Homo sapiens: one gene and its partners. The protein of the gene in region 1 purifies or fractionates together with the protein of each later gene. This does not show direct contact. Each region holds a gene or a part of one and is shown in the gene's direction. Other genes may lie near its edges.

Region 1 (3,727 bases):
GATTTAAGATTACTGTAATAAATACAGATAATGTTGAAGATTATAAGTTATGAAAGATTCAGATTCAGATTGAGCTCATTTGATTATTGACAAATAATTGTCATTATTTTACATGATAAAAGTTAGTTTTTAGGATTTTTGTTATGTGAAACCTTTTCTTCTAATGTTTTTGGTGTCCCATTGTTTTACTTTTTTTGATAGCCATGTTTGTCAAGTAGAATGTAGACTTCTCAGTAAATTCACACAATATCATTAAAATATGTCCAGGTAGTCTGCAGTGAGGCATTATTTATCATAGCTACCCTCTTCTCCCTTTTCACAAAAAAAGAACATTCTTATAGTAGTAGGGACCCTGACAAAATAATTTATAGTATAAATACATACTTGATTTTGAAATAATTTGATGAAACAATGTATACATATTTAAAATCCTCTGGGCATTGGATATTTTCATTTTTTTATTTTTTATTTTATTTTTATTATTTTTTGAGACAGAATCTCCCTCTGTCGCCCAGGCTGGAGTGCAGTGGTGTGATCTCAGCTCACTGCAACCTCTGCTCTCCAAGTTCAAACAATTCTCCTGCCTCAGCCTCCCAAGTAGCTGAGACTACAGGTGCATCTACCATGCCTGGCTAATTTTTCATCTACCATGCCTGGCTAATTTTTGTATTATTTTTATTTTAGTAGAAAAGGGGTTTCACCATGTTAATCAGGCTGGTCTCAAATCCCTGACCTCAGGTGACCTTCCTGCCTCGGCCTCCCAAAGTGCTGGGATTATAGATGTGAGCCACCACACTTGATAGATATTATTTTTAATAGCTTGGGAAAAGGCGATACTAACATATTTAGGAAAACAATTCCTGAAGCAGATATGCAATGTGGTAACAAATTTGTTTTAAAAGTATATAACCAGGATGGGTGCAGTGGCTCACACCTGTAATCCCACCACTTTGGGAGGCCGAGGTGAGAAGATTACTTGAGCCCAGGAGTTCAAGACCAGCCTGGGCAACATGGGAAGACTCTGTCTCCACACACAAAAAAAATAAATTAGCTGAGCAGGGTGGCATACGCCTTTAGTTCCAGCTACTCAGGAGGCTGAGGTGGGAAGATCACTTGAGCTCAGGAGGAGGCTGCAATGAGCCATGATTGTACCACTGCACTCCAGCCTGGGTGACAGAGTGAGACCCTGTAACATATTTTTTGAGACAGGCACTCGCCCTGTTACCCAGCTGGTCTTGAACTCCTGGGCTCAGGTGATCCTCCCACCTCAGCCTCTCAAAGTGTTGGGATTACAGGTATGAGCCACAATACCTACTTAATTATATACATGCAAATATATGTGTGTATGTGTATGTGTGTGTGTTTGAGACATGAACATTTATAGAAAAAATTAGAGGCCGGGCATGGTGGCTCACGCCTGTAATCCCAGCACTTTGGGAGGCCGAGGTGGGTGGATCACCTGAGCTCAGGAGTTCAAGACCAGCTTGGCCAACATGGCAAAACCCCATCTCTTCTAAAAATACAAAAATTAGCCAGGCGTGGTGTCACACACCCGTAGTCACAGCTACTTGGGAGGCTGAGGCAGGAGAATCACTTGAACCCGGGAAGCGGAGGTTGCAGTGAGCCGAGCTCGTGCCACTGCACTGCAGCCAGGGTAACAGAGCAAGACTCCATCTCAAAAATAATAATTTTAAAAAAAGAAAAAATTGCAAAAGATATGCACCAAAATGTTTACATTGGTTATCTCTGGATGCCAAAATTATGTAAGATGTTTCTTGTTTTTCTGTATTTTGTAAATATTCTACAATGAACATGTATTGCATATAGAATCAGAAATAAAATATAGCATTTGTTTTGTTTTACTGAGGGATTGAGGGTTGGGAGGAAGGTATACTTCTGTTAAATGAAATAAAAAGTTGACAACATTTTTGACCCTGTAAGAGATCAACATTTCAAAGATGAGTTTCATCTTACTGATTCTATGAAGTTCAAATTATAAGGATGCCAAGTAGCACATGTTTATAATTTGGTTCAGTCTTTTATTTTGGTAATGTTTCTAATGATTTCTTGTTCTTAGAAAATAAAAGGTATTCTTAATGATGTATATTAAACCACTACTTTATCTACTTAACTAAATTTGATTCATTTTTTAAACTTCATATAGGCTAAAGTGATGTCCAATGAAGAGAAAAAATTTCAGCAACATATTCAGGCCCAACAGAAGAAAGAACTGAATAGTTTTCTCGAGTCCCAGAAAAGAGAGTATAAACTTCGAAAAGAGCAGCTTAAAGAGGTACTTATGTCATAAAACTTTCCAAGCAAATTTTCTGCTTATTAATTATATCCAATGGTGACCAACTCATAGAAGCATTAGGATAAAATTATCTTTTGTTGTTTATGGTCACTAAATGGGTATTAGTTTAAATGATGACATTGATTATAATCAGTTACCCTTAACTGAGTCATTTAGTTGAGTAGGATTTAAAATGAATCATTTCCTGAAAATATACTTTTTTTATGTTTTTATTTTATATTTATTTATTTATTTTTGAGACAAAGAGTCTCGCTCTGTCACCCAGGCTCGAGTGCAGTGGCGCGCTCTCGGCTCACTTCAAGCTCTGCCTACTGGGTTCACACCATTCTCCTGCCTCAGCCTCCCTAGTAGCTGGGACTACAGGCGCCCACCACCACACCCGGCAAACATTTGGTATTTTTTTTAGTAGAGACGGGGTTTCACCATGTTAGCCAGGATGGTCTCGATCTCCTGACCTTGTGATCCGCCTGCCTCGGCCTCCCAAAGTGCTAGGATTACAGGCATGAGCCATCGTGCCTGGCCTTATGTTTTTATTTTTTGTGTGTATTTTTTGAGACAGTCTTATTCTGTTCCACGGGCTGGAGTGCAGTGGCACAATCATAGCTCACTGCAGCTTCGACCTCCCGTGCTCAAGCAATCCTGCTTTAGCCTTCCAAGTAGCTGGGAACACAAGCACACACCACCACTCCTGGCTGATTTTTAAATTTATTTTTTGTAGAGACAGGGTCTTGCCATGTTGCCTAGTCTGGTCTCAAACTCCTGGGCTCAAGCAGTCCGCCTACCTCGGCTTCCCAAAGTGCTGGGATTATAGGCATAAGCCACCGCACCTGATCACATTTATTACTTTAAAAGTAAACAATAATGTCTTACTTTTGGATCAGAAGATTATAATAATTTGTTTTTATGCCAATTTAAATGTAGAATAAGGGAGATATTTGCTTATCAGGTTTTTTTTAAGTAGAATATGCTGATTATTTCTTTGTGGCTACAGGGTTTCATATTTGTTTGCCCTTTCTTGTGCTGCCCGGCCTCCCCCCTACCCCCCGCTTTTTTTTTGAGACGGAAGTCTCACTCTGTCATACAGGCTGGAGTGCAGTGGTGTGATCTTGGCTCACTGCAGCCTCCCCTCCCCCCAGGTTGAAAGGATTCTCCTGCCTCAACCCCCCCGAGTAGCTGGGATTACAGGTGTGTGCCACCATGCCTGGCTAATTTGTATATATTTTTTTAGTAGAGACGGGGTTTCACCATGTTAGCCAGGCTGGTTTCAAACTCCTGACCTCAGACAATCTACCCACCTCGGCCCCCCAAAGTGCTGGGATTACAAGAGTTAGCCACCACTCCCGGCTCTTGTGCTGCTTTTTGTTTGTTTGGTTTGGTTTGGTTTGAGATGGAGTCTCACTCTGTTGCCCAGGC
Region 2 (3,500 bases), on another chromosome or scaffold:
TAGCTGGGGCAGCATGGGATCCCATCCCACCAACAAGGGCCCTCTCTATTGAGCATGTAGCTGTCCTGGTGCTCCACATGGGTGGTCCAATTTGAATTTTTACAACAGCATGTGAAGCCAGTGGTGTTACTGTCCTCATTACAGAGATGAAATACCTAGGAAACTAGGGCCTATGCCTTCCGCTTTATATAAGGTTTAACAAAAACAGGCCGGGCATGGTGGCTCACGCCTGTAATCCCAGCACTTTGGGAGGCGGATCCCCTGAGGTCAGGAGTTCGAGACCAGCCTGACCAACACGGTGAAACCCTGTCTCTACTAAAAAACAAAAATTAGCCATGCGTGGTGGCGTGCACCTGTAGTCTCAGCTGCTCAGGAGGCTGAGGTGGTAGAATTGCTTGAACCCAGGAGCCAGAGGTTGCAGTGAGCTGAGATTGTGCCATTGCACTGTAGCCTGGGCGACAGAGAGAGTCTCTGTCTCAAAAAAAAAAAAAAAAAAAAAAAAAAAAAAAAAAAATATATATATATATATATATATATATATAAATAAAAAAATTAACAAAAACAAAGCCCCAAAGAGGCCAAGGAAGTTTGTCCTCAGTTGCCGTGCTCTCTCTTGGGGTGGGATGTGACAATGGAATTGGAAATAGAACCTGGAAGTCCAAGGTCCCCAACTAGGAAATTGGCAGAGTTGTCATTAAAATCCAGGCCTTAGACTTGGATTGCTATGTCAGCCTATGTCTTCACTGCTAACACGACCTGTGTCTTTAATCCTCCACCCTGTACTCGAGGTCCAGGGAACCTCCTGGAGAACCTAGGGCTGGCTGCCTAGAATAGGCCCTTCTTGGCCAGGCGTGGTGGCTCATGCCTATAATCCTAGCACTTTGGGAGACTGAGGAGGGCAGATCACTTGAGGTCAGGAGTTCAAGACCAGCCTGGCCAACATGGTGAAACCCCATCTCTACTAAAAATACAAAAATTTGCCAGGCACACGCCTGTAATCCCGGCTACTTGGGAGGCTGAGGCAGAAGAATCACTTGAACCCAGGAGGCAGAGGTTGCAGTGAGCTGAGATCGTACCGCTGCACTCCAGCCTGGATGACAGAGTGAGACCCTGTTTCAAAAGAAAAAAAAAAAAAGCCCTTCTTCCCCTATAACTCAAAGTGCAAGAGCCTTTTTGTGACATCTCTCCTCCTATGGTGTGCCAGCCAAACCACGGTTTGCAACCTGGCTTCGTTCCCAACCCACAAGTCACTGGGGCTCTCTGTACTGAGTTTCCTCATCTACAAAAAGAAAATCAGCATCTCCCAGGAGAGTCAGTCTTCATGGCAGTTAACTGAGATTGCACCCATAAGGCCCTGGCATGCAGCCTGTGTAGTTCTCAATTGGAAGGCTCCTTATTTTTTTGTTTTTGTTTTTTTTTTTTTGAGATGGAGTCTCACTCTTGTCCGCCCAGGCTGGAGTGCAGTGGGCACGATCTCGGCTCACTGCAACCTCTGGCTCCTGGGTTCAGGCGACTCTCTTGCTTCAGCTTCCAGAGTAGCTGGGATCACAGGCATGTGCCACCACATCTGGCTAATTTTTGTATTTTCAGTAGAGATGGGGTTTCACCATGTTGGTCAGGCTGGTCTCGAACTCCTGACCAAAAGTGACCTACCCACCTTGGCCTCCCAAAGTGCTGGGATTACAGGCGTGAGCCACCACGCCCGGCCGGGGCCTTATTTTGGTCCAAAGCATTGAGCCTAGCAATGTGGCATAGAGGAAGGACCTCCCTTCAGTGGCCCCTGCCTGGGTCCCCCTGCTCAGGTCAAGATGCAAAAAGGTGAGCGCCAGATGGCCAAAAGGTTCCTGGAGGAACGGAAGGAAGAGCTGGAGGAGGTGGCCCACGAACTGGCTGAGACTGAGCACGAGAACACGGTGTTGAGGCACAACATCGAGCGCATGAAGGAGGAGAAGGACTTCACCATGTAAGGTGGCTCCTGCTCTGTCCCCGCTGATCTATTCCTCCCTACCAGGCTGCCTTGAGCCCTGGGCAATAATGGAAAGCAACGTAGGAGGTGGGCACAGGCACTGTGCCTGTGCCCTGGAGCCTGTTCAACAGTCACACAATTAATTACAGTTAATTACCTGGTTGTGCTTATGATTTGTACTATGAGGGAAAGGGAGGACCCCGTGGATTGTGGTGTGGGACTGGGTAGCAGGGAACTGTTTCTGGAACAAGTGATATTTAAGGGGTGTCCTGCAGGATGGTTAAGCATTCGGCAGGTGGGTGCTAGGGAAGAAAGCACGCTACTCAGTGGGAACATCTTATGCGAAGGCCCCAAGGTGGGAAAGTGTTTGTAGCTGAGAAATGGAAGGCAGGCCAGAGTGGGTGGGCAGAGGATAAGGGGGCCACATAGGTTGGCAGGGGGCTGGCTCTCAGCAGCCACTTTGAGGCATTTGCATTGAGGGCATTTGGAAGCCATGGAAAGGATTTATTTTATTTAATTAATTTATTTGGCCGGGCGTGGTGGCTCACGCCTGTAATCCCAGCCCTTTGGGAGCCAAGGCGGGCAAATCACAAGGTCAGGAGTTCGAGACCAGCCTGGCCAACATGGTGAAACCCTGTCTCTACTAAAAATACAAAAATTAAGCCGGGCGTCGCGGCGGGCGCCTATAATCCTAGCTACTCTGGAGGCTGAGGCAGGAGAACTGCTTGATCCTGGGAGGCATCTCAAAATTTTTGAGATGGAGTCTCGCTCTGTCATCCAGGCTGGAGTGCAGTGGCGTGATCCTGGCTCACTGCAATGTCCGCCTCCTTGACTAAAGTAATCCTCCTGCCTCAGCCTCCCAAGTAACTGGAATTACAGGTGCCCACTACCATGCCCGGCTAACTTTTGTATTTTTAGTAGAGATGGGGTTTTAGCTGTTGGCCAGGCTGCTCTCGATAACACCTGATCTCAAGTGATCTGCCCACCTCGGCTTCCCAAAGTGCTGGGATTACAGGCTTTAGCCACTGTATCCAGCCTACAGCCATGGAAGTTTTAAAAGCAGGGAGGTGGCCTGACTAGCCTTGGCTGCAGTGTAGAGAAGAGGTAGAAGGGCTCAAAATCGTATCTGAAGATGGTGCGTAGGAGGGCGTGACAGTGGAGGGGGGCAGTGCAGAGATGACAATGGTGGCTGTTTGAGAGAAACAGGGCCACAGGTAGCTAATGTCTCCTGGTGTGGAGGCCCTGGTCTGGTGCCCAGGCAGATGTAACTTCTGGCCCTGGTCCTTTCTGAAGGCCACCCAGGCCAGAAGGGCTGTCCCTGCCCCCTCCCCTACTTTTCCCTGACCAGAGGTGAGCCCCCTAGGGCATTGTGAGGCAAGCCTTGGATCTCTGGGCATGCGGGGGCCTGGGAGGGCTCACAGAGCCGTCTTTCTGGCCCCAGACTTCAGAAGAAACACCTACAACAGGAGAAGGAGTGCCTCATGTCCAAGCTGGTGGAGGCGGAAATGGATGGGGCTGCGGCTGCCAAGCAGGT
Region 3 (3,727 bases), on another chromosome or scaffold:
GGTCCATTGAGAACCCAGCCTTCTACCTTAGGGTGAGGGCAACACACCGTGTACCCGGACCCCAAGGGCCTGGAGTCGTCTTCCCTGGTCATGATTCCCTGCGACCTAAGAGCAAGTGAGGGCAAGTTCCCCAGAGCCAGGCTACTGGGGGAGTTCTAATTAGAAATATGTAGCCTGTTCCCACCAGCCACATTAAAATCCAAGAGCCAGACCCGGCTGCTATACTTTCCACAAACTCCTGTCCCCACAGCTGCTGTTGGTAAAGAGTGGGGGAGCCATTGGTATGAGGTTCCTGGTAACCTGTTTCCCCGTTATAAATATTCGTAATGCCCTCTGTTCTTTAGAGGTATCCCTTTTGGAGATTAAATCTTATGGTTACCTCAGATCATGGATTCTCAATGAGTATGATATTGCCCTGAAGTGGGAGAAAATTGGTTCTCGGGAGGGTGGAAGGAATTTTACTCCTTTTATGCATAAGACACAATTATACATACAGTACATGAGCAGACATACAGTGCATCTGTGATGTTAAGATTTTGCTGGGGAGGCTATTAGGGAAAAAAATCTTAAAAGCCTTCTTGTGGGGCAATAATGAAAAAAGATACAGAAACACTTCTTTAGATGAAGGGAGCTGGCAGCAGCCTATAGAGTTGAGAAAAAGGGGGAAAGAGATTCTACAGATTCTAAAAGAAAAACTGGCTGTCATTTTCAAGAGAGGTTGGCTCTCTTGAGATATGACCTCCTGTTCTCACGTGAGTTCCCCAAGAAGGTTCCTGCCAAGCCCAGCTTTATCGATTGTGAAAACCCAGAGAGGTCTCGCCGCTCGCTCACAAGGGCTTTGTTTGGGAGCTTAGCTTGGGAGACACTGCTGCTTTCTAAGTTTGACAGCACTGGAAGTCTTTGTCCATTAATGCCAGGACCCTGAGTTTGTTTCTGTCTGAACTGAATCTCTTAGGACTAGGCTTCTGTATCACTGGATGATGTTTCTAACTTTTTTTTTTTTTCGAGACAGGGTCTTGCTCTGTCACTTAGGTTGGAGTACAGTGGTGCGATCATAGCTCACTGCAGCCTCTACCTCCTGGGCTCAAGTGAGCCTCCCACCTCAGCCTCCTGAGGAGCTGGGAATACAGGTGCATGCCACCATGCCCAGCTAATTTTTGTATTTTTAGTAGAGACGGGGTTTCACCATGTTGGCCAGGATGGTCTTGATCTCTTGACCTCGTGACCCGCCAGCCTTGGCCTCCCAAAGTGCTGGGATTACAGGCGCGAGCCACCATGACTGGCCTGTTTCTAACTTTTTATTTTTAAAAAGTGTACCCATTAATTTCTAGACATTAAACACACCTATGTTGCCAGCACCCAGATGGGTAAAAAACAGAATACTACCAAACCCTCCCAGTTGTTACACTCAAGATAGTCGCTGTCCCAACCCCACCGCTGTGGTTTGATCTGCTTTTGAACTTTGTCTAAACGGGATCCGAGGTCGGGTACTCTTGTGTGTGGTTTCTTTTGTGCAACATTGTGCCTCTGAGCCTCACCCGTGTTGCTGCATGTAGTTGGTAGTGGTAGGTTTTGCTTTCTCAGCATGTTGGTGTCTTCCCACTGTGTGGCCACAGTGTCTGTTCACCTGTCTGCCCTAAGATGTGTTGCTCAGCCAGGCACAGTGGCTCACGCCTGTAATCCCAGCACCCTGGGAGGCCGAGGCGGGAGGATCTCGTAAGCTCGGAGTTTGAGACCAGCTTGGACAACACGGCTAAACCTCATCTCTACAAAAGATACAAAAATTAGCCGAGCCTGGTGGCATACACCTGTAGTCCCAGCTCCTCAGGAGGCCGAGGTGGGAGGCTCACTTGAGCCCAGGAGGTAGAGGTTGCAGTGAGCTATGATCGCACCACTGTACTCCAACCTAAGTGACAGAGCGAGACCCTGTCTCAAAAAAAAAAAGTGTTGTTCCTTTTTGATGCTAAATTCTTTTTCCACGTCTAATACCTGGTACCTGCCGCCTCCTCCCAGGTGTAAGCCCCCGACAACCTGAGTTTCTCCCTCTACTTGGCCTTGCATCTGATTAAGGCACTGAAATAGGAAATAAAGAAATGAACAAGACTCATATCATCAGAGAATGCTGTGGATTGGAGCTTCTAAGTTACCTGAAATGCGGAAACTCTGTTACCAATGTCCCTTTATAATTGGGAAATAGGCCAGGCGCAGTGGCTCACGCCTGGAATCCTAGAACTTTGGGAGGCTGAGGTGGATGGATCACTTGAAGTCAGGAGTTCGAGGCCAACATGGTGAAACCCCGTCTCTACTGATATATGTATATATGCCGGGAGTGGTGGCACCTGAGGTCAGGAGTTTAAGACCAGCCTGGCCAAAATGGCAAAACCCTGTCTCTACTAAAAAGACAAAATTAGCTGGGCATGGTGGTACATGCCGGTAGTCCCAGCTACTCAGGAGGCTGAGGCAGGAGAATCGCCTGAACCTGGGAGGCGGAGGTTGCAGTGAGCCGAGATCGAGCCACTGCACTCCAGCCTGGGCAACAGAGGGAGGCTCTGTATCCAAAAAAAAAAAAAAAAAAAGGGAACTCGTGTGCCTGTGTTTTTGGAAAGTTGTCTATGCAGCTGTGCTAAAACACCAGAAGCAGATTGCAGCTGATTGTACCCGGGTACAGCATCACTCCAGCCCACTTAGAGCAGAAACCCAGTTTTGGAAACAACACTGCTCTTGCCCCCTGCCCCAGCTCACTGGAGCTGGTGTCTCCCCTCGGCAGCCGTTCACTGGGGCTTTCCCCAGTCCTGCCCCCTGGGCTCTTTCCCTTTTGACACTGCAGTCTGGGGTTGTGTGTATCTCCGTCTAAGCATGGTAGGGCCAGCACCCTCACCAGCGTGGAGACAGCCAGGGTCCCCGGGTGGCAGATAGCCGCCTCATGCCCTCATATGCGTCTCTCAGGCCGCTAAGCCTGTACTATGACTTGATCACCGCCACTGTAGTACTTTTTAATTTCCTTCCTTCAGCTCACACCCAAGAGGGGCCTCCAGTCAATGTCTGTAGAAGCACTGACCATTCCTGCATAATTAGAAGCTGAGGCCTAGCACGGTGGCTTATACCTGTAATCCCAGCACATTGGGAGGCTGAGGCAGGAGGATCGTTTGAACTCAGGAGCTGAAGACCAGCCTGGGCAATGTAGTGAGACCCCATTTCTACAAAAAATAAAAGTAAAAAATAGCTGGATATGGTGGCACACACCTGTAGTCCCAGCTGCCAAGGAAGCTGAAGTGGAGGGATTGCTTGAGACTAGTTTTGTTTTGTTTTGTTTTGTTTTGTTTTGTTTTGTTTTGTTTTGTTTTGTTTTGTTTTTGAGATGGCGTTTTGTTCGTGTTGCCCAGGCTGGAGTGCAGTGGCTCACTGCAACCTCCGCCTCCGGAGTGCAAGTGATTCTCCTGCGTCAGCCTCCTGAGTAGCTAGGATGACAGGCGCCCGCCACCACAACCAGCTAATTTTGTATTTTTACTAGAGACGGGGTTTCACCATGTTGGTCAGGCTGGTCTCGAACTCCTGACCTCAGGTGACCTGCCCACCTCGGCCTCCCAAAGTACTGGGATTCCAGGCATGAGCCACCACGCCCGGCTGAGCCTAGGAGTTTCAGGCCGCAGTGATCTCTGATCTACTGTTGCATGCCAGCCTGGGAAACAGAGCAAGACCCTGTTTCTAAAAATGAGAAAAAATTTAA

What was found.
Region 2: the proteins of TAOK1 (region 1) and ODF2 purify together in Homo sapiens (co-immunoprecipitation; one large-scale study listed by IntAct). This does not show direct contact.
Region 3: the proteins of TAOK1 (region 1) and KLHL36 purify together in Homo sapiens (affinity purification with mass spectrometry, with the first as the bait; one large-scale study listed by BioGRID). This does not show direct contact.

What each region holds. Positions count from the first base shown.
Region 1 is NC_000017.11:29,508,700-29,512,426, forward strand, and holds part of TAOK1 (serine/threonine-protein kinase TAO1), read left to right. Parts: intron 1-2,164; coding exon 2,165-2,293; intron 2,294-3,727. UniProt on the Homo sapiens protein: Serine/threonine-protein kinase involved in various processes such as p38/MAPK14 stress-activated MAPK cascade, DNA damage response and regulation of cytoskeleton stability. Phosphorylates MAP2K3, MAP2K6 and MARK2.
Region 2 is NC_000009.12:128,469,506-128,473,005, forward strand, and holds part of ODF2 (outer dense fiber protein 2), read left to right. Parts: intron 1-1,802; coding exon 1,803-1,963; intron 1,964-3,407; coding exon 3,408-3,500. UniProt on the Homo sapiens protein: Seems to be a major component of sperm tail outer dense fibers (ODF).
Region 3 is NC_000016.10:84,651,284-84,655,010, forward strand, and holds part of KLHL36 (kelch-like protein 36), read left to right. Parts: intron 1-3,727.